Homo sapiens: one gene and its partners. The protein of the gene in region 4 interacts with the protein of the main gene of each other region in a pairwise test. Each region holds a gene or a part of one and is shown on either strand. Other genes may lie near its edges. The genes, in order: CMTM3, CCDC167, ORMDL3 and SYT2.

Evidence for each region.
Region 1: the proteins of SYT2 (region 4) and CMTM3 interact in binary tests that used the Homo sapiens proteins (3 or more experiments, as listed by UniProt).
Region 2: the proteins of SYT2 (region 4) and CCDC167 interact in binary tests that used the Homo sapiens proteins (3 or more experiments, as listed by UniProt).
Region 3: the proteins of SYT2 (region 4) and ORMDL3 interact in binary tests that used the Homo sapiens proteins (3 or more experiments, as listed by UniProt).

The regions. Positions count from the first base shown.
Region 1 is NC_000016.10:66,600,319-66,607,729, forward strand, and holds the start of CMTM3 (CKLF-like MARVEL transmembrane domain-containing protein 3), read left to right. Parts: upstream 1-4,385; 5' UTR 4,386-4,487; coding exon 4,488-4,634; intron 4,635-4,690; exon of another isoform or gene 4,691-4,906; coding exon of another isoform or gene 4,907-5,002; intron 5,003-7,411.
Region 2 is NC_000006.12:37,496,869-37,504,543, forward strand, and holds the start of CCDC167 (coiled-coil domain-containing protein 167), read right to left. Parts: upstream 3,026-7,675; 5' UTR 2,996-3,025; coding exon 2,954-2,995; intron 1-2,953.
Region 3 is NC_000017.11:39,920,542-39,924,630, reverse strand, and holds the end of ORMDL3 (ORM1-like protein 3), read left to right. Parts: intron 1-405; 5' UTR 406-427; coding exon 428-601; intron 602-1,367; coding exon 1,368-1,519; intron 1,520-1,945; coding exon 1,946-2,081; 3' UTR 2,082-3,588; downstream 3,589-4,089. UniProt on the Homo sapiens protein: Plays an essential role in the homeostatic regulation of sphingolipid de novo biosynthesis by modulating the activity of the serine palmitoyltransferase (SPT) in response to ceramide levels.
Region 4 is NC_000001.11:202,595,455-202,602,484, reverse strand, and holds part of SYT2 (synaptotagmin-2), read left to right. Parts: coding exon 1-107; intron 108-427; coding exon 428-595; intron 596-2,010; coding exon 2,011-2,128; intron 2,129-3,133; coding exon 3,134-3,267; intron 3,268-5,521; coding exon 5,522-5,728; 3' UTR 5,729-7,030. UniProt on the Homo sapiens protein: Exhibits calcium-dependent phospholipid and inositol polyphosphate binding properties. May have a regulatory role in the membrane interactions during trafficking of synaptic vesicles at the active zone of the synapse.

The DNA of each region.
Region 1 (7,411 bases), on a different chromosome or scaffold from region 4:
GTTTTTAGTAGAGACAGGGTTTCACCATGTTGGCCAGGCTGGTCTCCAACTCCTGACCTCAGGTGATTAGCCCACCTCAGCCTCCCAAAGTGCTGGGATTACAGGCATGAGCCACTGCGCCCAGCCCAGGGCCACGTTTTTAATAACACCAATGGGAACCAGATTTCTCTCTGTTAGAACCCTCACCTGGCCTCCTCCTAGGGAATTGTCCGTAAAATCCAAACTCCAGGTTCTGGTCCTCCCAGTCTAGCCCTGCCCCTTTTCTGACCAGCTCCCCCCATCTTCCCCCACCCTTCCCCCCAAACACCTTGGCTCAGTCCTTTCTTTGACACTCCCTTCCTGGCTGTCCTCCCAACCAGCCAGACATCTGTTATCTATTACCAGGAACACCTTATTCAGGATTCTCTGGATATGTTTAGTGTTTATTCCACCACCATCACCAGCAGCAGCAGAAAAAGCTGGGGCCTTGCTGTACCCTAGGCACTGCTGTTGGATGAATAAATGAATGTCAAGAAAGGCTTCTCTGAGGAAGCAATACTGCACTATAGTCACTGAAGAATAAGGAGGAGTTAATTAGAGAAGAAGGTGGAGAAGCATTCTGGGTAGAGGGGTCAGCATGGACAATGGCTCTGTGGCAGGAGGGACCATAGTTTGTTCCAGGAACTGTAAGAGGTCCATGGGAGAGGCAGGGGAGGGAAGCACAGCAAAGAGTTATATTTTCCTTCTATACTAAGACCCTGTGCAGGTTGGGAAGCTCCCATGGTTTGTGTGTGTGTGTGTGTGTGTGTCTGTGTGTGTGTGTGTGTGTGTGTGTGTTTATCTTTGTGGGGAGGAGATGGAAGTGTTACAGGATCTTTGGGGTGTTAATTTTCTGGTTGGAAACCTCTGTGGCCAGTGGCACCTTTGCCAGAGTTCTTGTCTTGCATCCAGGAAGAATGAGGTACACAGACAAGTGGAGGGAGAACAAGTCAACAAGGAGGTTTACTGAGTGTTAGAAAGCTCAGAGGAGACTGACAGTGGGTAGCTCTTCTCTGTAGGGAGGTCATCCCGTTGAGTGTTCAGCTCTCAGCAGAGAGGAGGCCCTGGAGAGTGTGGCTCCTCTCTGTACCTGGTCCTCCCAACCTCTGCTCAGCTCTGGCTGAGACTGGGGCTTTTATGGGCCTCAGAGTGGAGGAAGTGTGAGCCCAGTTGATCTATGGGCAGCCATGGGTGGGTCAGAAAAGGAGGTACAAGTTCCCACTCTGGTCGGTCGGACTGGCAGCCTGGCCCCCAGCCTTCAGGCCCTCCCTGGCCCAAAGGTGGGGCCTCAATGGGACTTGCCCCCTTCCACCCAGGAATCTGTCCGCCTCCTGCTGCCATTCATGAAGCCCAGGCTTGCCCCAACTTTGCTCCCAGATCAGAGCACGTGTCCACAGCAGGAAGAAGCCAGGCAGCAGGAGAAGGCACTTCCGAGCCTGGGAGGGCAGGTGGGGGCCTTCCTGGGCCCCTAAGAGTACAGGGATGCCTGAGCCTGCAGCTGTGGTTTGGGCAGCTGTAGCTGTGGGAAAGGGGGTCCCAGGGCTCCTGTCTGCCCCATGGAGGAGGCCCCATTCTGCAGCTGCAGTTTGGGTAGCTGCAGCTGCACCTGGGAGAGCAGGACTCCTGCCTGCTCCATGGAGTGTGCAGCCCAGGCCATGCCTCCCTGCTGCAGCTGGGTGATGATAGCAGCAGGTTGTCTGGAGCCACGGCTGCCATCAAAAGTGATCAATGACTGGTGATTGTCATGAGTGGTACAAGGTCAAGAGATAATCAGGTCTGGCCAGGTGCGGTGGCTCACGCCTGTAATCCCAAACCTTTGGGAGGCCGAGGCGGGAAGATTGTTGGAGGCCAGGAGTTCAAGACCAGCCTGGCCAACATGGCAAAACCCTGTCTCTACTAAAAATACAAAAATTAGCTGGGTGTGGTGGCACAGGCCTGTAATCCCAGCTACTTGGGAGACTGAGGCATGAGAATCCCTTGAATCTGGGAGGTGGAGGTTGCAGTGAGCCAAGATCATGCCACTGCACTCCAGCCTGGGTGACAGAGCAAGCCTCTGTCTCAAGAAAGAAAAAAGAGATAACTAGGTCCACACGTGTTTGTGTCTTTCCACAGTGTCAGATTTTTATTCACCCTATACCCAAGGGTAAAAAAAAACAAAAGCCACAAGCTATCCCAAGGAGCCAATTTGCTTCTTCTTCTTCTTCTTCTTTTTTCTTTCATACAGAGTCTCACTCTGCCGCCCAGGCTGGAGTGCAGCTGGAGTGCAGTGGTGCGATCTCAGCTCACTGCAACCTCTGCCTTCTGGGTTCAAGTGATTCTCATGCCTCACCCTCCCAAGTAGCTGGGGTTACAGGCCTGTGCCACCACGCCCAGCTAATTTTTGTATTTTTAGTGGAGATGGGTTTTCGCCATGTTGGCCAAGCTGGTCTCGAACTCCTGACCTCAGGTGATCTGCCTGCCTCAGCCTCCCAAAATGCTGGAATTATAGGCATGGGCCACTGCACCCAGACCCAAGGAGCCAATTTTCCTTAGTACTTCCCGTTCACTCAGTAGTGAGCACATGGGCTCAAGCCACTCCACAAGTCAGTCAATATTGCAAACCATATATAATAGTATACTTAATCCACATGTAAATGTTATAAACATTCCACAACAAACAAAGTAGCATTTAACATCAAGAGAAAAAGAGATAGGAGAAAGGGTTAAGGAACCAGTTCCAGGGTAAGGAAGAAGACAAAAGGAATCCTGGTCTGGGCTTGAGGGTCTTGCAGAGTCTTTGAGGGGCAGAGCCTTGGGAGGCAGATGCAGAGTTCTTATGAACGGCAGTGGGATGGTTGTCAGTTAAGGCTGCTGGGCTGCTGTTTTGTAGTCACAGAGTGCTCTGGTGAGAAATGGTAGAGGAACAGTGTGCTTCTTTGTGTCCTTATGTGGTTGGACGCAGTCTTTATTTATTTTTTTTTTTATTTTTTGAGACAGAGTCTTGCTCTGTCGCCCAGGCTGGGGTGCAGTGGTGTGATTTTGGCTCACTGCAACCTATGCCTCCCGGGTTCAAGCGATTCTTGTGCCTCAGCCTCCTGAGTAGCTGAGATTATAGGCACGGTGCCACCACGCCCAGCTAATTTTTGTATTTTTAGTAGACACGGGGTTTCACTATATTGGCCAGGCTGGTCTCGAACTCCTGACCTCGTGATCCACCCACCTCAGCCTCCCAACGTGCTGGGATTACAGGCATGAGCCACAGCGCCTGACCTTCTATTTTTTATTAAACAAAACATCTTGCCCTTGTTGGCAAAGCACCCTATGAAATATAAAATGAAGTCTTTTTCTAAGATGGAGTTAGTTATGTCAAGGGTGCGCAGTACTGTGCCATAAGCTCTCCCCCGGCTGCCCAGAGAGAAAACCTAAGGGCCTCTTAAAGACACCATCACAGCAGTTCAGCGGGGAGCAGGCAGGAATGGTTTCGGATCTAGTGGTGGTGAGAAGTAGACAGAGATCAGAGAAAGTTATAGGAGGTGAAAGTGGGAGGACCTTGGTTACAGACTGCCGGTGAAGAGGGACAAGGACAACCCGCAGGTCTCCGCTAGTCAGGTGGAAGGAAAGGAGGGGGCAGTGCCCTTCGCAGAGGCACAGGAAGCTGGGTCTTGATCACGCTGAACTCCAGACGCTCTCTAGATGTGCACGCATGTGCGTGTGGAGTGTGTGTGTGTGTGTGTGTGAGAGAGAGAGATGTGTTGGGGTGGGGGGACTGCAGGTCAGGAAGTCCTGCAGATGTGCGTGCCTGTGTGTGTTTGCGCGCGCGCGCGCGTGTGTGTGTGTCTGTGTGTGTGCCTGGAGCTGCGCTTGCAGGTCTGAGAGTCCTCTGAGAATGGGTTGGGGGAGGCGGGTGCAGGACCGAGGCCTGGAACAGCCAACAAAGAGGCCCTGGAGGAGGGTGGGGCTGGCCGGGGACAGGAGGGGTGGCCAAGAAAGTCGCAAGAAAACTCCGGCCCCCAAGAAAAAGAGAGGGCATGGGTTGCGGAGCCGACATCACGGCCGGGGTCTTTGCTGTTTAGACGCCTGGGTTCCCGGATCCCAGACACGCGCACGGGCAGGAAGTTAGACCGGAGACAGCGAGTATAGACAGCCCTTCTGGATAGGGGCAGACGGGTGGGAGCTCCGAAGGGGTGCCGGGGCGGTGATCGGGAGGTCTCCAGCGGCCCGAACCAGGGTGAAGAAGAAGGTGGAGTCTGCGGAGGCCCCAGGCCGGGGAGGGGGCGGGTCGGGCCCAGCATCCCCCGCAGCCGGGGTCCGAGGGGGAGGGGCGGGCTGGAGGAGCGGGTGGGGGCGGGGCGGGGCGTGGCGGCGGGGGATGCGCCCCTGCGCGAGCCAGTGTCGCCTGCCCTCCTTCCGCACAGCCCGGGTTTCCGCTTCCCTCCGGGCGCGAGAAGAGGGGAGCCAGGCCGAGCCCCGGCCCTACCGCCGCCGCCGCCATGTGGCCCCCAGACCCCGACCCCGACCCGGACCCCGAGCCTGCCGGCGGCTCCCGTCCCGGCCCCGCGGTCCCCGGGCTCCGCGCCCTGCTGCCGGCGCGGGCTTTCCTCTGCTCTCTCAAAGGCCGCCTCCTGCTGGCCGAGTCGGTGAGTGCGGCGGGACCCTCGGCCGCCCCGCTAGGACTGCGCGGCTCCTTTCGGAGGAGGACGTCGGGGCGCGGGTGGGGTCCGGGGGCGGCCGCCGTGCTCCGATACCCCCTCTCCGCGCCGCCTCGGCCGACTTCTCTCGGGCGCCTGGCGAAGTTGGGTCGAGGTCCCCAAACTTTGGACGGCGGGGCGGGGCCCGAGCCCAGGCCATCCGCGGCGCTGTCCCCGCGAGTCCAGAGCTGGGGGCCGTGGGAAGTGGGTGGGGCCCGGGGATGTGGGTCCTGCTGTGTGAGCCAGGCGCCCCCGCCCTCTCTGGGCCCCGGGGACTCGGGCAACTCGGACCTCCGGGACTCCCGGGCCGCAGCGGGGTCCGCTTTCCTGCGAGCGGGTAGTGCGGGCCGGGGCCTCGACCTGCGGGGCCGAGCCGGCGGGGGGCCGTGCGGAGCGGGAGGGATCCCCCACCCCCGGGACTGGGTGAGGCGGCCCCGCGGTGACTTCATCGCCCTCCTCCCCTCCGCGGCCGGGCTCCTTCCTACTCCGCCCTCGCCCCCACCCCGGCCGGTGGGGCTTCTTTGTCCTCTGGACACCGGAGGCGCCCGCACTGTCCGCTGTGGGGTAGGGGTGGCGCTGGGCCGTTGGGGATGGGGAGGGAGAGGCCGGGCCGGAGACCGGGGGAGGCGGGAGGAGAGAGCGGCGCACGGCGGCGGCCACTTGTTGCTTAGATCCCAGGAACTTGGCGCTTCCTGCCCTTGTCCCCACTTTACAGATGAGAGCGCTCAGGCGCCTGATTTGACAGGTGGCTCAACTGAGGGGCCCAGTGAGAGCGGCCAGGAGGGTGGGGGCAGGAGGAAGGGGGATTCTGCTCCGGGACCTCTCCCTGGTCACTCAGGGCAGAGGGCAGAAGGTGGTCCTGCAGCCTCTCCCACGGTCAGCCCAGAGGCCACCTGCCCAACGCCCAAGTGAGACACCAATGCCACACTCCGAGCCCACACTCCCAGCCCCACCCTGGAGACCACTGGGAGCCACTTGAGGGGAGAAGCCTCGAATCCACCGTCCCCAGAGTGGCTTGAACCCCCCCATCCCCACCCAAGACCACCTCATAAGAGGGAGGCATATGTCCAGCAGGAGCATAGAGGCCACCCTGGGCCCAGCAGATGTCAGGAATCCAGGTCAGGGAGGATAAGGAAGGGTGAACGGTCAGCACTCAGGGTTCACAGGAGCCGCTGAGGGCACTCCTGCCTCCCTAGTCCCCTCACTCCCACCCCCAGGCCAAGCAAGTGCAGAGGCTGAGATGGACAGAAACAGAGAGAGGAAGTGGCCCCAGAAATCGCGGGATGAAAAAACAGGAATTGAGAGGGGAATCCCCAGAATTAGGCTTTGGGGTGCAGGCATAGGAGACAGGAAGGGGAGGGCCAGAGCTGGGTCAGTCCCATGGAAGGCCTTCCTGGGAGGCCCCAGCAGCCTCCCAGCCCGTCTCTATGCCTTAGTCTATCTTTCCAAAGGGGGCTCAGCTGCACCCAAGGCCATGTGCAGAGCAAATGGGGGTGCTCTGGGGACCCCCTGGGATCCCTGCAGTTCATTTGTCTGAAGCAGCCACAGTGCTTCCTGTGGGGCATCTGGGTGTCCCCATGGGGACTCCTGCACCCACTAGAAACTACTCAGCCATAGACATGTTCAAACGCAGCCACAGTGACAGAAACCAGGGACAGATGGCCTCCCCAACACCCACAGGGCCAAGTTGCTTAAGAACTCTACCTGGGCCGGGCGTGGTGGCTCATGCCTGTAATCCCAACACTTTAGGAGGCCGAGGTGGGTGGATCACCTGAGGTCAGGAATTCGAGACCAGCCTGGCCAGCATGGTGAAACCCTGTCTCTACTAAAAATAAAAAAATTAGCTGGGTTTGGTGGCGGGCGCCTGTAATCCCAGCTACTCGGGAAGGCTGAGGCAGGAGAATCACTTGAACCCCGGAGGTGGAGGTTGCAGTGAACTGAGATCGTGCCACTGCACTCCAGCCTGGGAGACGGAGCAAGACTCCATCTCTGGGGCGGAGGTAAGATAACTCTATCTGGGGGGTCAGCCAGCCCTGGGTTCAAATTCTAGTAGCCTCTGATTAGCCATGTGACAGAGTCTTCTCATCTGTCAAGTGGGGCTGTGCTCATGGGTGGATGTGAGGGTCAGAGGAGATGCCCGTGAGCCTCAGGGTACCAGGCACTGTGGAGCCCCAGGCTGGCCAACAGGTCACCTTGGCCTGCTCTGCAGCGTACCTGGGCTGCAGGACTGCCCAGGGCTCAACATCCTCCTGCATCAGCTCTTCCCACCTACAGAGTTGTGGGCAAGACCACAGTGAACATTTTGATTCTTGTAGTTCAAGTACAGCTGGCCCCACCTTTCACAGCTGGCCCTGTATGAATAAGGCAGCAGGGCCTGAGGTGTCAGTGCCAACGCACCCTCTGTTAGATGTTCCTTTCTTATCATTATGAAAATTTGCAAATACATTAAAACTCCAAAAGATTTTTTTGCTTTATCTATCTGTCCATCAAGGCATTTTATCTTTTAACACAAAATAAATTGCAGACATCAGGACATTTCAACTCTGAACACTTCAGGACGCATATCATTAAGGTTCAAGGTTTTTTCTTTTCAAGGTGAAATCTACATTCAGTGACGAGCACACGTCTTTGGTGTTGGGTGTTACTTTTTGGAAACTGGTTCCTGCCTCGCTTTGATTTCCCTCCGCAGGGCACTGAGTGGAGTGCATGTGCTTGGAAGGCTGGGG
Region 2 (7,675 bases), on a different chromosome or scaffold from region 4:
TTTAGTTCTTGCCAATGGAAAGTGGACAGTTTGGGCCCAGGACAGTGGGTGTGCTTCCTCCATTCTCCTCTTTCTCTGCCGGTGGACACATCAGTGGGGTATGCCCCGGTTCCACTGATAAGGTGACAAGATCTCAAGAGATGGTGAAGCCACAGAGGAAGGGAATCTGGCAGAACCACCATAGACCTGGTACTCTAGACCAGGAGTTGGCAACTAAGCCCTGTGGCCAAATGGTCTAAGGACTGTTCTTGCAGATAAAGCTTTAGTGGAACACTGACACACCCACTTATTTACATATTCCTTCATTTACATACTCCTACCTTAGCCTGAATACAGTTGGTTCTTGTTGTTCCTGGTAGCTATGTCCTATAAAGTTGCCTCTAATATTGAATTAGCAAATACCAAACCAGGTGAGGTTCCTGCAAGCCTATGGACACAACATTTTTGCAACCTTGTTTCATGTGTGATTCTGTTTAAAGTGACCTTATTCAATATATATTGTTGATTCATTAACACTGGACTCACAACCAACAGCACTATACGTGCTGTTACATCATGAGTTATATCATGCCTGAACAGTTTATCTAAAAAACCTGTTTTCTTCTACAACACATCACAGCCTTCTTGGATTTAGGAATGCCAGACAGCACTTCAGCCCTATGCTTGGGGTCGGGGGTCGGGGATCGGGGGCACTTTAAACAGCAAAATCAGGCAGTGGCTCACACCTCTAATCCCAGCACTTTGGGAGGCCGAGGTGGGCAGATCACCTAAGGTCAGGAGTTCGAGACCAGCCTGGCCGACATGGCAAGACCCCCGTCTTTACCAAAAATACAAAAATTAGCCGGATGTGGTGGTGGTCTAATCCTGGCTACTAGAGAGGCTGTGTCGGGGGAAGGTGGGGGTGAACACTTGAATGGGAGGTGGAGGTTGCAGAGCCAAGAGTGCACCACTACACTCCAGCCTGGGCGAGAGTGAGATTCTGTCTCAAAAGCAAAACACAGCGAAATACCAATAAAAAACATGAGAATGAAAAAAACAAAACAAAACAAAAACAGGGCACTAAATAGAACACAATAAGGACCCTTGTTTACAGTAGGACAGCTGAAACAAGGCAGGGCATCATCACCTGTTCAACTTTAGCTGAGAACATGGACTGCGAGCGACTCAATTTTTTTCCCACTGCTTTGCATTTGCCACAAAAGCACTGTGAGTACTGATTTTGGGGTTACAAATACATTTTAGCCATTAGGGAAATTCGCAAATGTGGAATCTGTGAATAATGAGGATCAACTGTAGTTGCAACCCAGACCATTTGGCTCTCTAGAAGAGACCATGTCTCTTCTAAAATAGTTACTATCTGACCATTTGCAGACATCTCCTGCCCCTTGCTCTAGCCTGTTAGAAAAAAACTCACTTTCTTGTTCTTGAAGCCACTGAGTTTTGGAGTTTCTCTGTTACTGCAGCTTATTGTACCCTAATGCAGGTTACAAAGTCTATGTTCTTCCCGCCACAAAGTACCATCTCAGTCACCACTCATAAACCATCCTCTTCACATTTCCATCAACCTTTTTCCTACCAAGTGGGCCAATATTTCTCAAGGGATGCCACTAAAACTACCCACATCACCATGGGGTGTGTGTGGCTTGTAAAAAAAAAAAAAATGCAGATTCTGGCCGGCTGTGGTGGCTCATGCCTGTAATCCCAGCACTTTGGGAGGCTAAGGCGGGCGGGCAGATCACTTGAGGTCAAGAGTTCAAGACCAGCCTGGCCAACACGGTGAAACCCCGTCTCTACAAAAATACAAAAATTAGCCAGGCATGGTGGCACGTGCCTGTAATCCCAGCTACTCGGGAGGCTGAGGCACGAGAATCGCTTGAACCCAGAAGGCAGAGTTTACAGTGAGCCGAGATCACGCCACTGCACTTCAGCCTGGACAACAGAGCGAGACTCTGTCTTAAAAAAAAAAAAGCAGATTCCTTGTTAAGAATGCACATCAAAGTCCTACTGAATTACTCGGGGTGTGGGAAGAGTTCAACTCTCCATTTTTAACAAGCCCTGTGACTCTATGCATGCTAAAGTTTGAGAATCACTGAACTCACTAGTAAGCCTGAAGAAGACTATGACCCTGTACCTCTCCTGCAACCTCCGGGAGGATGCCCTAAGGGAAGGAAAACAGGGGAAGCAAGATGAATTTCCAGGAAGACCACCTGTGCTTGATTCCCAGGCTCCACCACTTCCACCATCTCAGCCTGGGTTCCACCTGGAACCTCAATTTCCTCATCTGTACAAACCTCACAGGCTTGCAGTGAGGATTAACAATGCAATGAAAGTAGCACATAGCGGTTGCTCAGTATGTATGTTTTCTTTCCCTTCTATATGCAGCAAATTATTTTTAAGCCATTCAGTGACATCACCAATTCCAGAATTCTCTTTACATATTCCCAAAGTAATTTTGAAGGTACAAGCTTCCATACTCCGGAGGAAAAATTTCCCCTTTTAGAGGATATTTAAACCATTAATAATATACACCAGAATGGGCTCCCTCATCTTTGAGTCCTAGCCCTTTGGGAGTTCTCCTTAGATTCTACAGGTCCCTATTTCTCTGGGGTCTCCCTCACCTCTGTACCCATCCCTTTTGTTCTGTGTCCCCCGCTTTGAGTTCCCTCACTTCTATGCCAGGCCGTCTTTGGGGCTCCCCTTCACTTCCATGTCTCTTCCTCTCTGGAGATGCCCTCTCCAGAGAGTCTGGTTCGCCCATCCGGCACCTCCTCGGGCTCCCTGTCCTCCGGGAACCCCGTGGGCCTTCTCACCCCTCCCGTCCCTCTCCCCAAACCGCGTCGCCCTCTCATCCTACGCTTGGCTCCTCCTCCTATCTATAGCCCAGCCTATCCCTTATCCCGCGGCCAGGAGAAGGCAACTAACGAGGTGGCCCAACCCCCACTTTTCCCCTCACCTCTAGAGCGACGCCCAGATTCTCCCGCTTCTTTTTAGTCATGTTACTTGCCGGGATCCCCCAGTCATCACTGGACGCGCCCACCAAGTCGCTATGTGCGCATGCTCAAGTCTTCGTGCTTCTCCCTCATTGGCCACCGAGTCAGCGGGAGGTGGGGCTGCTGCCGTCGCCATCTTGTTGAGGGGCGCGGCCGGCTTGGTGCGGACATGTTTATGAGGGGCAACCTCTAGCTTGAGACCTCAGCCTAGATGGGTGGAGGGTGGAAAAGTCGGTACAGGGAGGCAGAATGTACAGCCCGGGAGTAGACCTGCCCCTTTCTTCCCCAGTTTTAAGCCGCTTTGCATCACTGAGAGCCTTTTTTAACCCCATGTTCTCTTTCAGTGTGTTTTGTGTTTCAGCAACAACCCCGTCCCTGTTTAGGCCACGCCCCCCATTCAAAGTCTGTCCATCCTTCAAGGCCGGTGCTGGAGCCTTGAGCTTCTCGGCCAATGGAATCTGATAATGGCCCTCTATTGTTATTTCTCCTTTGTGTCTTGACTTCTTTTTTTTTTTTTTTTTGGTTTGTTTTATTGTAAGAACAACCTACAAACATCACAGAAAACATATAACTGAGAAGCAGCATCCTTTATTCTACCAACTTTATCAGTTCCTCTTTGCTTCTGTTTATTCCTCCCAGGCTTGGCCTCACACACAGTATTTTACATTGTTGTAATCGTACTATACTGTACACCATAGACCCACGGCCTTTGAAATGTTTTGACTGTGACCCTACGATAAAAAAATGTATTTTATACCATGGCCCAGTTACCCATGAAACCAAAACCAAAGTTTCACAGTAAGTACCTTTACCTCCTGTAATGCACTCTGTTATTTTGTATTCTTGCCTATTTAATTAAAAAAAAACAAAGTCGGGCACGGTGGCTCAGGCCTGTAATCCTGTGTCTGGAGTTGGTTCCTTCAGGTGGGTTCTTGGTCTCACTGACTTCACGGTGAGTGTTACAGCTCTTAAAGGTAGCACGGACCCAGAGAGTGAGCAGCAGCAGGATTTATTGTGAAGAGCAAAAGAACAAAGCTCCCACATCATGGAAGGGGACCTGAGTGGGTTGCCACTGTTGACTGGGGGATGGCCAGCTTTTATTCCCTTATTTGTCCCCTGTTACAGAGCACTGACTGGTCCATTTTACAGAGTGCTGATTGGTGCATTTACAGTCCTTTAGCTAGACACAGAGTGCTGATTGGTGCATTTTTACAGAGTGCAGATTGGTGCATTTACAATCCTTTAGCTAGACACAGAGCGCTGATTGGTGCGTTTTTACAGAGCACTGACTGGTGCATTTACAATCCCTAGGTAGACACAGAGTGCTTATTGGTGCATTATAATCCTTTAGCTAGACACAGAGCGCTGATTGGTGGGTTTTTACAGAGTGCTGATTGGCGCATTTACAATCCTTTAGCTAGACACAGAACGCTGATTGGTGCGTTTACAATTGTCTAGCTAGACAGAAAAGTTCTCCAAGTCCCCACTCAACCCAGGAAGTCCAGCTGGCTTTACCTCTCAATCCCAGCACTTTGGGAGGCTGGGCAGATCACGAGGTCAGTAATTTGAGACCAGCCTGGCCAACGTGGTGAAAGCCCGTCTCTACTAAAAATACAAAAATTAGCTGGGCGTGGTGGTGGGCGCCTGTAAACCCAACTACTCGGGAGGCTGAAGCAGGAGAAACACTTGAAACTGGAAGGCGGAGGTTGCAGTGAGCCGAGATCGTGCCACTGCACTCCAGCATGGGTGAAAGAGCGAAACTCCATCTCAAAAAAATAAACAAAAACAAGTTGGTGGCAGGACACCTCTTAGGTTTATTTCATGACCCCTTAATGGAGGTTGAACTGCAATTTGAAAAACACTGCCAAGTATGTTTTTCTGTGTCTTTGAAATTATCACTTGCGGTGGCCTCATGTGCCACCAAGGGAGTCTCTCGCATTCTTGCATTGGACATCATTTTATTGACAGTAACTCCAAATATTGCGAAAGCAAACCTTTTCGTGCACACAGCTCTGTCCTCTGGATTCTTTCTTTAAGATAAATTCACAGAAGTAGAATTACTAGGTCAAAGAGTATGAGACCAGAATCAAAGCTCCTTATTTCCTGACCAGTTATCTCTGTTGGTGCCTGTGTTTTTGTATGTGAATAATAACCCCAACTCAGTGTTAGGGGGAAAAATGTTTTCAGATCTGTGTTCTCTTCTTGATAGAGACATTGAGTGATGGAGCTGGAAGGCGTCTGAGATACCATCTCGCCTGGCTGCCTGACTGAGGCCCACAGAGAGAGAGTGTAGTAAATTCTATCTGAACAGGAAGCAGGTTGTTGAGCAGTTGTTTAGTGCAGTTCTCAGCTTAACACCCAGCACAGGAAAAACTGATTCAAGAACATTGTCCATCAACTGTCAATCAACATTTATTGTCAGAACACTCTTCACAGCATTGGTTCCAATCCCGGAAAAACCAGACTCTGTGCTTCCCAATTATCACAGGCACCGGCCCAGGAGAGGTGAGAAGAGGAAGAAAAACACTGTGTTCTTTGAGAAGTGACTCCTTCTGCATTTGTTTGGCACCAAGAAAAAGCCACAGAGATCTGGGTGCGCCTCATGTCGGTCCCTTGTCCATGAAATGATGGGCAATCTGTTGTCTGTCTTCCTGAAGAGCCTCGTGTTTTCCCAACCAAACCTTGTCCCACAGGTCTGATAATGGGAAGAAATGCTTGAAGTGGGGTTGGAATGAGAGTCTATGTGGGTTGTAGTGAAAGGGGAGGCTTTTAGAGGGAGATCAACCTGGATGCCAATCCCAGCTCTGCTTCTTAGCAGCCTGTGATGTGAGGCAAGATACTTCAGCCCCGTAAGCTTCAGCTTCCACATCTATAAAACAAGCACATCATACCAAACTCATAGGGCATTTGTGAGAAGTACTAAGTGGCGGGTGCTGTGGCTTGTGAGTGCCTAGGAGAGGCTCAGCAGGACTGATGAGGCTGCTGCCAGCTTGTCGTTATAGGGTTTTGTTTAGCAATTGTTGCCATGGGTATTTTTTGTTATTATTTTGTTTTCAGTTTCTATCAGCTTTGACACTATTGTATCTGTTGTTATAAATTTGGGGCAAATACTTGGGTGGTTTCCTGCTATCATGGGTGCATAGTTCACTGCAAAAAGGCAGCCCCTTGCAAACACAAGCGTTTCTCTGTAAACAGGAGATGCCCTCTCCACCTGTCTATGTGTCCTTCCTGCTGAGACCATCAATTACGGGTTTCCTTTGCCCCAGACATCGCAGACAATAGTGACCTGCGTGGTGTCAGGGAGGATGCAAGCACCCCAGGTACCCCACTGAGGTCCTTTCATCCCCCTGGCACATACAGAGACCCAGCCTGGATTCCCATGGAGGCTGTTTGCTGAGCCTTAGAGCAGCTTGACTTGCCTCCATGTTGGAAATTCTGCCCATGAGCAGATGGATTACTGTGGGCCAGCTGTCTGTCTGTCTGTCTTTATTACCCCAGGGAGCTGTGGTTCTGAACCTCCTATTGGGGGTTTTAGAACTAAGTGTTTCAGGAAAGTCGAATGCTGCATTGACAGACAGGAGAACTGGAGTCGTTCCTGGCTAGCCCAAGTTCTCACTGCATGACCTTGGGCAGGTCAAGCCTCCTCTTTGGCTCTTAATTTTGTCTGCTCAATGGGTACAGTGGGGAGAACGAGACAGTCACCCTAGGTTCCTGTTTTTCATGACCTTGTTATTTGTAAGACATAACGAGGAAGACATAAAGCTTCCTTGTTAGCTGTAAGGGAGACATATAAAGTAAGAACTAACGATTACCTCAAGATCTCTTTAATCTAGTTAGAGAGACAGACTGACAACATGAAATAGTGCATGCCAGACATCATATAATTAAATGCCAGCTGTCTGGTACTCACTGTTGATGCATTAGGAGTGCAGAAACAAGAGAATGGGGTGGGTATTTGGGGATGGCTTTGTGGAGGCTCTGGGTCCAGGAGGACAGATGAGATTGCGTCAGGCAAAGATGCAGGAGAGGGCATCCCAAGTGGGAACCCACAGGGCTTCCTGTGCCAAGGAGGGGCGCCCTTTCCAACTTTGCATGAAAGCAATTTATACGCTAGCCACATCCCTGACTTATTTGTCCTAGAGACCCTGGGAGACCATTTCCTCTATCCCATGCCTCCTTCTGGGTTTGCCTCAGCTGTGGGGCCCAGTGTTGGGTCCCCATCGCTGCCCAAAGGGAAGCTTTTCAGAGCAAGAATGAGGGAGAGTGGCATTGCTCACTGTCAGAAGCATTTCAGGCAGGAAATGAAGAATTTTTTAGGTGGCTAAAAATACTGTGAAAGCTGATTTATGTTTGCATTTTGTTCCAGGACAGCAGATTATAGCCCAAGTTCTGAGGCAAAGGCAGCAGCGCCTTTATGGCCTGCTTGGAACAGTTTTATGTCTTAGTGAGTTTTATACATTTCAGCTAAGCCAAGATGCTAGAACTTTTTTGTCCATATATTTCACTGGGGAAAACTCACATACCACTCCTTGCACCCAACCTCATGTTACCATGCAAAAAGAAAGAAAAGGAAGGAAGGAAGGGGAAAAGAATGTGCTTGCTATTTAGTTGGTATCCAGTTTTTAGTTAACGTAAATCAAATTGTAGACAGTGAATCCACATGAAACTGAATTAGACAGCCAGTG
Region 3 (4,089 bases), on a different chromosome or scaffold from region 4:
ACACAGTCCAGCAGGGGTTGTGCTGAGTGAGAATTCTCTCCCTGGGGCTTTGTCGGCAGAGGGTCCTCATGGGAGTGCCATAGGGGGTGAGGCTGGGGGATGGGCCTTGACTTCTCTGCCCTGGGGCTGCGTGCCTCTTGATGACCTGTCCTCCGATGCCCTGCCAGGGCCCTGTCCCAATGGGATGATGCATGGGGCAGCCTGTTGTTTATCCCAGCCCAGCAGCAGGAAATGAGTAGAGCTAAGTCCACATGGACTTTCTCCACTTTCCATGCTTCAGAATCAAAAGAGTGGAACTGCCTGGAGTTCTCAGGGAAACAAGGGCCTGCCTCCCAGCGGGATCCGAGGGTGAGAGGGGGCAGGGAAAGCAGTGTGACCTGTCTGACCTGTGCTGCTTGTTTGCAGAACAGCAGAGAGGGGCAGCAGGATGAATGTGGGCACAGCGCACAGCGAGGTGAACCCCAACACGCGGGTGATGAACAGCCGTGGCATCTGGCTCTCCTACGTGCTGGCCATCGGTCTCCTCCACATCGTGCTGCTGAGCATCCCGTTTGTGAGTGTCCCTGTCGTCTGGACCCTCACCAACCTCATTCACAACATGGTGAGAGCCTGTCTGCTGCCTGCCCCTGCCCCTGCCCCTGCCCTGTGGGCTGCCCTTTGGCAGGGCTGAGGGATAGGAGGAGCCTGTCGGGCCTGGCCCAGGTGTCAGGGTGATGTACTGACGACATCTGCCTCCAGAGCCCAGGCCTAGCCCTTACCTCTCTGCCTTGCTCCCCCTTCTGGGTTCCTGCCCTGTGTACCATGACAGGAATCAAATCTGCAGATTTTTCCACATCTCTAGGGTGGGGTGGCTGTTGGCCTGGAAGATGTGCTCCTGAGAGCTGAACAAAGGGCTCCAGAGAGTTCCCAGGACCCGAGAGTCCTGGTGCCTAGGCTGATACAGAAATGCCCCTTTCTCAAGTTAGCTTCTCGAACCGTCTTCCACTTTTGCCCTTCTCTGCTCCCTCACCACTTGCTACCTTGCACTCTTTGTCGGGTAAGCAGGGCTTAGTCCCATCGCTTGCCTCCTCCCAACAGGCACAGGGGGCTATGAGTGGCCTGGAGGGGGGCAGCATCTCGGTGCCTATCTTGTGGCCAACTTCCACCGTGCATTCTCATGCCAGGCCTAGCCCGTCCCCCAGGGAGTCCCCTTGTTCTTCTCCTGCCATACTCCCAGCTGCTCCATCCTGACCTCCAGCCCATATCCCCCTGCCCAGCAGAGGGAGGCTCCAGATCACTGGGAGTTACTTGTGTCTGTGACTGGGTGGAGGAGCTGGGCAGGGGGGCCTTTCCCTTTTGTATCCTCTAACAAAGACTTCTTCCTCCAGGGCATGTATATCTTCCTGCACACGGTGAAGGGGACACCCTTTGAGACCCCGGACCAGGGCAAGGCGAGGCTGCTAACCCACTGGGAGCAGATGGATTATGGGGTCCAGTTCACGGCCTCTCGGAAGTTCTTGACCATCACACCCATCGTGCTGTGAGTGCCTGGGCTACAGGAAGACACCAGCAGGCAGGGCAAGGCCTGGAGGACCCCAGGGCCCAGCCATGCTTATTAACCCTGCCGTGGCTCCTGGTGTAGGGATGAACAGAGGAAGTTGGAATATTCCTGGGTCTTACACTGGACTCAGGCTTTGGGCCTCCCTGGCCCCATCTTTCCTCCATTGGAGCTTCCTTCCTGCTAGTGAGATAGGCCTACAGGCTTGGGGTGAAGCTGGGAGGTGGGGGCGGTACTGGGCCAGGAGGGGCCCCTTTAGCCTGAGAGCTCTTGCTTCTTACGCTGGTCTGGGAACCTCTTCTGTAACTCCTTAGCTGTTGGGATTCTGCCTTTCCCCTCCCAGGAAGTGAGGGAGGAAGGGGTCCTCCCAACAGTCTTTTATATCTCTCCCCACCCTTCCCCTCCCAGGTACTTCCTCACCAGCTTCTACACTAAGTACGACCAGATCCATTTTGTGCTCAACACCGTGTCCCTGATGAGCGTGCTTATCCCCAAGCTGCCCCAGCTCCACGGAGTCCGGATTTTTGGAATCAATAAGTACTGAGAGTGCAGCCCCTTCCCCTGCCCAGGGTGGCAGGGGAGGGGTAGGGTAAAAGGCATGTGCTGCAACACTGAAGACAGAAAGAAGAAGCCTCTGGACACTGCCAGAGATGGGGGTTGAGCCTCTGGCCTAATTTCCCCCCTCGCTTCCCCCAGTAGCCAACTTGGAGTAGCTTGTAGTGGGGTTGGGGTAGGCCCCCTGGGCTCTGACCTTTTCTGAATTTTTTGATCTTTTCCTTTTGCTTTTTGAATAGAGACTCCATGGAGTTGGTCATGGAATGGGCTGGGCTCCTGGGCTGAACATGGACCACGCAGTTGCGACAGGAGGCCAGGGGAAAAACCCCTGCTCACTTGTTTGCCCTCAGGCAGCCAAAGCACTTTAACCCCTGCATAGGGAGCAGAGGGCGGTACGGCTTCTGGATTGTTTCACTGTGATTCCTAGGTTTTTTCGATGCCACGCAGTGTGTGCTTTTGTGTATGGAAGCAAGTGTGGGATGGGTCTTTGCCTTTCTGGGTAGGGAGCTGTCTAATCCAAGTCCCAGGCTTTTGGCAGCTTCTCTGCAACCCACCGTGGGTCCTGGTTGGGAGTGGGGAGGGTCAGGTTGGGGAAAGATGGGGTAGAGTGTAGATGGCTTGGTTCCAGAGGTGAGGGGGCCAGGGCTGCTGCCATCCTGGCCTGGTGGAGGTTGGGGAGCTGTAGGAGAGCTAGTGAGTCGAGACTTAGAAGAATGGGGCCACATAGCAGCAGAGGACTGGTGTAAGGGAGGGAGGGGTAGGGACAGAAGCTAGACCCAATCTCCTTTGGGATGTGGGCAGGGAGGGAAGCAGGCTTGGAGGGTTAATTTACCCACAGAATGTGATAGTAATAGGGGAGGGAGGCTGCTGTGGGTTTAACTCCTGGGTTGGCTGTTGGGTAGACAGGTGGGGAAAAGGCCCGTGAGTCATTGTAAGCACAGGTCCAACTTGGCCCTGACTCCTGCGGGGGTATGGGGAAGCTGTGACAGAAACGATGGGTGCTGTGGTCCTCTGCAGGCCCTCACCCCTTAACTTCCTCATACAGACTGGCACTGGGCAGGGCCTCTCATGTGGCAGCCACATGTGGCGTTGTGAGGCCACCCCATGTGGGGTCTGTGGTGAGAGTCCTGTAGGATCCCTGCTCAAGCAGCACAGAGGAAGGGGCAAGACGTGGCCTGTAGGCACTGTCTCAGCCTGCAGAGAAGAAAGTGAGGCCGGGAGCCTGAGCCTGGGCTGGAGCCTTCTCCCCTCCCCAGTTGGACTAGGGGCAGTGTTAATTTTGAAAAGGTGTGGGTCCCTGTGTCCTCTTCCAGGGGTCCAAGGGAACGGGAGAGGTCACTGGGCCTGTTTTCTCCCTCCTGACCCTGCATCTCCCACCCCGTGTATCATAGGGAACTTTCACCTTAAAATCTTTCTAAGCAAAGTGTGAATAGGATTTTTACTCCCTTTGTACAGTATTCTGAGAAACGCAAATAAAAGGGCAACATGTTTCTGTTTCCCTGTGTCTGGCCTTCGCTTCCTGGAAGGCTGAGGGGAGGGGGCAGGGGTGTGGGCAGCGGCTCCCGCTGAGGTGCTGGTGGGGCATCAGTGCAGCTCTGACGGTGGCAGGAGGGGCGCTGGGACTGCTGGGCTTTCTGCTGGCTTCAGCAGGGAAATCCCCCAAGGGGGCTGTGAGGGAACTGGCGGCGGCAGCGGTAGTCAGAGAGCAAAATTCTCTGTGCTTTTGCCTGGCTGTTCTCCGACAGGTCTTGCGCCTTGGCCCCAGAGGCTGGGGTGACCTGTGCCATGGCCAAGGAGGGGGACACTCCAGCAATGGTTTACACGTGGAGCCAGGGTCCCAAGTGGTGCTCAGTCCTTCCCAGTGAATCCCCAGCCCTTCTCCAGTTTCTCACTTCTCTCCCCAAGGCCTTTCCCCAGTCACCTCTCCCTTGGGAGCGCTGCGTTTCCTTCTGGCCTTTCAGTGGAGGGGACTTTTCATACTTCCTCCTCCCACCATA
Region 4 (7,030 bases):
ACCCTTATGTCAAGGTCTTCCTCCTTCCTGACAAGAAGAAGAAATATGAGACCAAAGTCCATCGGAAGACACTGAACCCTGCCTTCAATGAAACCTTCACCTTCAAGGTGCTGAGGGCTGGAAGGGTGACTCCAGCTCCCTGCCTGATCCCAATTCTCTGCTGAGTTCTACAGACCTTTCCTTGGTCCTTAGCCATGGCTCAGCCTGGAACAATGGCAGCCTTGACTGCAGGGCTACCCCGGCCTCTATGGAGGATCGGGATCCCTCCCACCCCACCCTCACACTCTGCTCCCCAAAAGCCTTGGTCTTTGTCTGTCTCGGCACACTAACCTGGACCCTGTGGGCTGGAATGCAGGCCCCTGCCCATAGCACCCCTGGAGGTGCGTGAGTCGCTCTGGCCCCCTCTGATTCTGCTTGTGCCCTGCAGGTGCCATACCAGGAGCTTGGGGGCAAAACTCTGGTGATGGCCATCTATGACTTTGACCGCTTCTCCAAACATGACATCATTGGAGAGGTAAAGGTGCCTATGAACACAGTGGACCTCGGCCAGCCCATTGAGGAGTGGAGAGACCTGCAAGGCGGGGAAAAGGAGGAGGTAAGAGCAGAGATGAGGCCAGGTTGGGCAGAAAGACGAATGTACAGGTGGGCTTCCACCTCTTGGCATGATGGAAACAGGGTGGGCTTTGGAGGCAGACGACCTGTGTTAGGATCCCAGCTCCACACTGCCTGGCTGTGTGACCCTGGGCAAGTTGCTTACACTCTCTGGACTCGGGTTCCCTCCTTTAGTCTTTTTTTACAGATGAGGATTCATTACCTGCATAAAGCGCCTAGCGCAGCGACTGGTATTTGGTAGGTACTCAAATAAATAAAAACACCATTATTATTGTTACTCCTAAGCTTCTGCTATTACCTAAGGCCAGTGATTCACGCCTCTGTGCCTCAGTTCACCCACAAGAAAAGCTCATGTTTGTTCTAAAGGATACTCAGCAAAGGGACTTGTCCTCCCAGAACTGCTACAGCATCCATTCACTCACTAAATATTTGCTGAGCAATTGCTGTGTACCTAAAACTCCATTTTAGCCATTCTTCCTTCTGGGCATCAATCATTTGTCTTGGCCAGGGCCCTGCTACCTGGCACACTCTAGGCAGTGATGGAGGGCTGAGTAGAGAAGCTTAAGACATCCTTTTTTCCCTTTTGTCCCCTGTGCCTGGGAGGAAGGCCAGCACACCTGAACCAGGACCTGTGTGATGTCGTCAGTCTTGCCCTGGGTGGCTTTGACTTTGAGCAGCTTTGACTCTGCAGTGTGGTGTTGGCCTTAGGAATTAGGAGCCCTGGGTCCTCAGCCTGCCTACAGTGCTAAATTGTTGTGTGACTTTGAGCAAACCATGGCCTCTGGGAACCTCAGTTTCTCATTGGTTACAAAGAATTCTTGTCTTGTTTACATCAAAGAGTTGCAGTGATAGTAACAAAAGGGATGCAAATTGCTCCGAAAACCACAAATCATACTACAAGTGGAATGGTCCACAAGGAGAGATCTTGGTGGGTGGGACTGTTAAGGGAAAGAAGGCTTCTGAGACATTCAGTCCCCCAGGGCCCTTGGTGGTGGACACGTGGCTAACCCACCCGCTTCTCGCACACCTTCCCACCTTACCAGGGCCTGGGGTGGGAGCCCAAACATACTCCCAACCTCCCAGATCCCAGATCCACCCAGGGATCCCTCCCTCAGTCCTGCCACCGCAGCTGTCCTCTACCCCCCTCATCTGTCAGCATCCTCAGCCCACGGCTCCTGAGGTCCCAACCTGTCACTTTCAGGGACTTTGTTGCACTGCATCAGGGGGACCCAAGGTCAGATGCTGGAAGACCTTCTCGGCCATCACATATATGGGGACTGGTGATGAGGGAGGCAGGGACACATCACTGCCTTGCTAATTTTGGCAAGAAAGAGGTCAGCCATGAGAGAGGCACTAGGATGGGTGAGATGACCCAAGTCCTGCTCTTCCCCTGGACAGCCGGAGAAGCTGGGCGACATCTGCACCTCCCTGCGCTATGTGCCCACGGCCGGGAAGCTCACTGTCTGCATCCTGGAGGCTAAGAACCTCAAGAAGATGGACGTGGGCGGCCTTTCAGGTACGTGGAGAGCTTCTGGCTGCCATTGGGTGGCACCAGCGAGCCAGTCAGCACCAAGTCCCAGAGTTTGCACACTCCAGTGAAGAGGAACACTTTGCTGCCCTGGGACTGAGATGTCTCCTCGAGGAGCGGGGGAGCCTTAGCTTCCCAGGCCCTCCTTTTCTCCAAGGGCCCCTTGTCCCCATCAGAGCTGCCTTCCCAGCGCTCTCTGGCCATGCACTGTGGGCTACAGAGAAAAGGATCAGAGAAATTTCATCCCCAGATAAGTTTGTGACTTAGGATTTTACTTCTCCCAGGGAAATGAGCAGGGCTTAGCCCAAAGCATGACACCACAATCGAGACATGTTTCCAGAAGAGGCTGTAGGCTCTGCTGGCTCTGCCCTGGAAAGGGGAGGGTGAGGCAAGGGAGTGGAAGATGCTCTGAATATCACATTTACCTGGCAGTGAATGGGGCTGGCCCATGGCACAGGGCTCTAGTGGATGAAGCCTGCTGCCTCAGCTGCCTTCCCAGAGAATCAGCCCTGGGCATGGGCTCCAACCAGCGCGTTTCAGTGCCAGCCTGGCTCTGTCACTGACCCGCTGTGTGACCTCGGGCAGGTCATTTCCGTTCTTTGGCCTCAGTTTCTTGTCTGCAAGATTAGGGGGATCGGATTGGGATTATGACCCAGCAGATGTGTGTCCTGACTTCAGCACTCCCCACCCACTCCCCAGTACAGGATCACAGATGAATCCCCAGACTCTTTCTCACAAGGCCTTACTTAGACTCAGAAATGCCCTCCACCCAATGCTTCAGGAAGCCACAACCAACTGGTCACAGTTGGTCCTGGAGGTGAAGCCTTTTGCCACCTTTGAACTGGATGGCATGACTTGGGGCTTTCTGAGGGCCTGGTCTCAGCGGAGTGAAGACCCCCTCTTGACCGATGCTCTGGGCAGGCCTTGGTACATTCGGCAGGAAGGCTGGGGGCTAAGGGGAACCTCTCTGGGGTTGGGATTCTCCCTCCGCAGACCCGTACGTGAAGATCCACCTGATGCAGAATGGCAAGAGGCTCAAGAAGAAGAAGACAACCGTGAAGAAGAAGACCCTGAACCCATACTTCAACGAGTCCTTCAGCTTTGAGATCCCCTTCGAGCAGATTCAGGTGCTGGAGCCCTGGGTTCCTAGGCATGGAGCAGGGTTTGGGGAGGCAAACATGTATGGGGAGGTTGAAGAGAGGGAACTCACCTAGAGACCATGGAACAGCCTTTCTTGGTAGGGGAAGGCTCGAGGTCTAATGGTGCCTGGGTGGGGCCTCCTTCCCAAGTGCTTCAGGGATCCCCCTTTTCTGAGGAGATAAACATGAACTAATTCAAAAAATTCTGCAAATCATTCGTTTAGGACTTGAAGGACCATGGTCATGCACACAGATGTATGGGGGTATAGCAAAGGTGCCAGAGGGGTTGGGAGCTGGCTGAGAGGGTGGGAGTGGCCGCTGCCACCTCCATCCTCTCCAGCCACATCCTGTCTTGGCCATCCCTGCCCCACTTCCACTGCTCTCTAGGTCTTTCCCATCTACTCCTCTGATCTGCTTCCTCTCCTCTCTCCCTCCACCCTTCCAGCCTTCTCTATTTTTCCTTCCTTCTCACCAGCAAGTTCTGTAAATGTTGGAGATGAGGTCTGGTTTTCACCATTTCCAGGTATGAGTGGGATCTGGACGTGGTAGGACAAGAGACCCACCCACCCACCCATTTGGGCGGGAAGTCAGGCGCAGCTGGGGGCTTGCAGAGTGGTCGGTTATCATGGAGTCTTGGTCTCTCCTTCTTTGTAGTGAGCTGATCCCACCCCCTCTCCTCCCCGCAGGAGGGCTGGGGGCAAGGGTACAAGAGAATCTTCAGAGTTGGTTCTGTCATCTATGGAGATGTGTATGATGTTATTGATGGAATACTTCAAGGGAACACTGGGCAGCTCAGTGATAATGTTAATCCAAGAGAAGTCCTCATTACAGAGAATTTTAGATCTAGAGCATCCTGACCCAGGCATCTCAAATTCAACATGCCTAAAACCAATGTAATGTTCTTCTTCCTACCTCTTCCCAGCCAAGCCTGTTTCATCTGAATTCTGTTTTCAATGAATGACCCCACAGTCCATCATTTACCCAGTGGCCCAAGTCAGAAACCTGGGCGTCACCTTAGACTGACTATTTCCTTTTTCCTTTCTCATTTATCCAACATACTTTACTGAGCATTTCCTAAGTGGTAGGCTAGGGGATGAGGAAATAAGTGTGTAATCCACACACTCCTTGCTCTCAAGGACCTCACAGTGGGAGGGCACCAGTAAACAGTCTAGTAAAGCACAGTGAGACGACAGCTTCAATGTCCATGAAGCGGAGGACTGTAGTGAGGCTTCCCAGAGAGAGCTTGGTCCTGAAGGACAAATCTGAGTTGGCTGGAGTCACAGGGGAAAAAGGCATCGAGCATTCAGCAAATCCAGCTGATCATCAAGTCCTCTTGATTCTCTTCCTAAATACCTCTCCAACCTGGTTTTGACTTCCCATCCCCACTGTCCCTGCCTTGGTACAGGTATTCGGGATCCATCCTCCCAGACCCTCCAGCATCCTCCAATGGGTCTCTTCCCTGCCATTAGGCCCACTCCTCCTCCAGTAAATCTTCCAACTCAATGCCAGGGCTCTCTCTCTCAAATGTCCACGACACTCCTTTTCTTAAAGTCGTCAGGAGTCCCCTACTGCTTGCCTGAAAGACAAAATGCAGACTCCTTGGCTGACCCCAACCTACTCTACCAGCCTCATTTCCTGCCTCACTGCTTCTCACCCTATACCTCAATGACTGAACATCTAATGTTTCTCAGATGCCAAATGCACTCTCAGGTCTCTATGCCTCTACCCAAGCAAATCTGTTTTCCTGGAATCCTCTTCCTTCTTTTCTCCTCCTAGAGAAATTCTCAGACTTCATGTCCCAGTCACCTCTTCTGTGAAGCCTTTTCTGATTGGCCCCAGGACTGTCACCTCCTCTAAGTTTCCACAGTACCTTGTGCCCATCTCTCTAGCATAACCTTTATCAATTCATGTTGTAAGTTTTCAGTTACATGTCTGCTGATCTCATTGAGGAAGTGAAATTCATCTTTTCACTTTTCCTTCCCTCTTCTCCCCCTCCAAGTGCTTAACAGGGTCTAGAGCACAGTACATCCTCAATAAATGCCCAGTGGTAGAAACAAAGGCTGCCAAAGGCGTGGCCTCTGCCTCCATGTCAATTCAGTCTTCACTGGAGCAGAGATGAAACCAAGGAGCCCCAGGAGGCCTTACCTTCCCAATCATTGGGAGTAGAGGTTGATGGAGGATAAATTTGGTCATGGGATCCCACGTCTCTGTCTGCCAACTCCCTCCCTCGTTTTCCTTGCAGAAAGTCCAGGTAGTGGTCACCGTGCTGGACTATGACAAGCTGGGCAAGAACGAAGCCATAGGCAAGATCTTCGTGGGCAGCAATGCCACGGGCACAGAGCTGCGGCACTGGTCCGACATGCTGGCCAACCCCCGGAGGCCCATCGCCCAGTGGCACTCGCTCAAGCCTGAGGAGGAGGTGGATGCACTCCTGGGCAAGAACAAGTAGACAGCAGCGGCTGGGACCCCACACCTTTCACGGACACTGACAAGATCCAGAGCTATCAATACCTCAGTTATGCAACCTTAGAGGTTTTCTTTTTTCTTTCATTTGTTGGGTGGTTGTGTCCTTGTTTTTCCTTGTTTTTCTCTTTTTAAAGACCAACTTCCCTTTGATGGCTGTGTGAGGAGAGTCCCCTAAGAGGTGAAAGAGAAGCCTGGCTCTGTTCACGGTCCCAGGAGCTGTCCTTGCTGCATGCCCTGTCACAGTTCCCTCGACTCTTTCAAAGCTTCACATCTGCCTCACCCCAAGCGAGGCTCTCTACTGGCACAAACTTGCAGCAGTTCCTGTTTTTTGAGCCTTCTGGACCAACAAAATGGCAGCACATCCTGCTTCCTGACAGGGAAGGCATCACAGTGGCCAATGATCGTGTGTGTGTGTGTGTGTGTGTGTGTGTATGTGTGTGTGTGTGTGTGTGTGTGTGTGTGTGTGTGTGTCTTTGAGCATTTCTCTTCATTCCTGGAATGTGTGTGTGTGTGTGTCTCTTTGAGCATCTCTCTTCATTCCTGGAATGAGCCATGGACAGTAAAGTTGTGTGGGAAAAGAAGGCTCTTTGGGGACCCTGACATGAAGAAGTCCACTAAGTGGGAGATCTTCTCTCATCTATGGCAAAGTCTCAGGATCCTGTTCAGATATCGGGGCTTTCATACTCCTGTTGGTGGCTATTTGGGAGGCAGCAAGATGTGAAGACTGGATGTGTTCAGAACTAGGACCAAACGATGCCATCAAATACTTCCTCCTGCCAGTCATGGTTTCCCCAGAAGTGTAGTTCCTGGGACATTCATGGATATGAGCTATTCACTAGTTGGGTCAGACTAACAGGGACTCTCAGTCCCAAAATCTCACTCTTATTGACAATAAATATCAAACTATGAAGAAACAGAAGTCCCATTACCAGAAAGACCAAAATTAAACTCCTGGATCTTCACCCCATCCAGTGGGAAACACAGATGCTTTCTCCCTTTCCAGAATATAAGCAGCCAAGTTCATTTGCATTTATTCCCCATTGTGCTTTTGCTTCTGTTTCTCTTTTAAGTGGAGCAACACTGTCTGAAGACACGTTATCTGTGCAGAGCCAGAGAACTTTAAAAGGAAAGTTTAAATGTTCTTAGTTCTCCTGAGGTCCAGGTAAGAAGGGGGTGGTAAGAAGAGGATGGGGGACAGATGGCTGAGATCCCTTGGGAGGAGATATAGGGGAGCACTGGAATTCCCCCGACTCCCACTCCTTGCTCCCTTGGCCCTCTGCCCTCC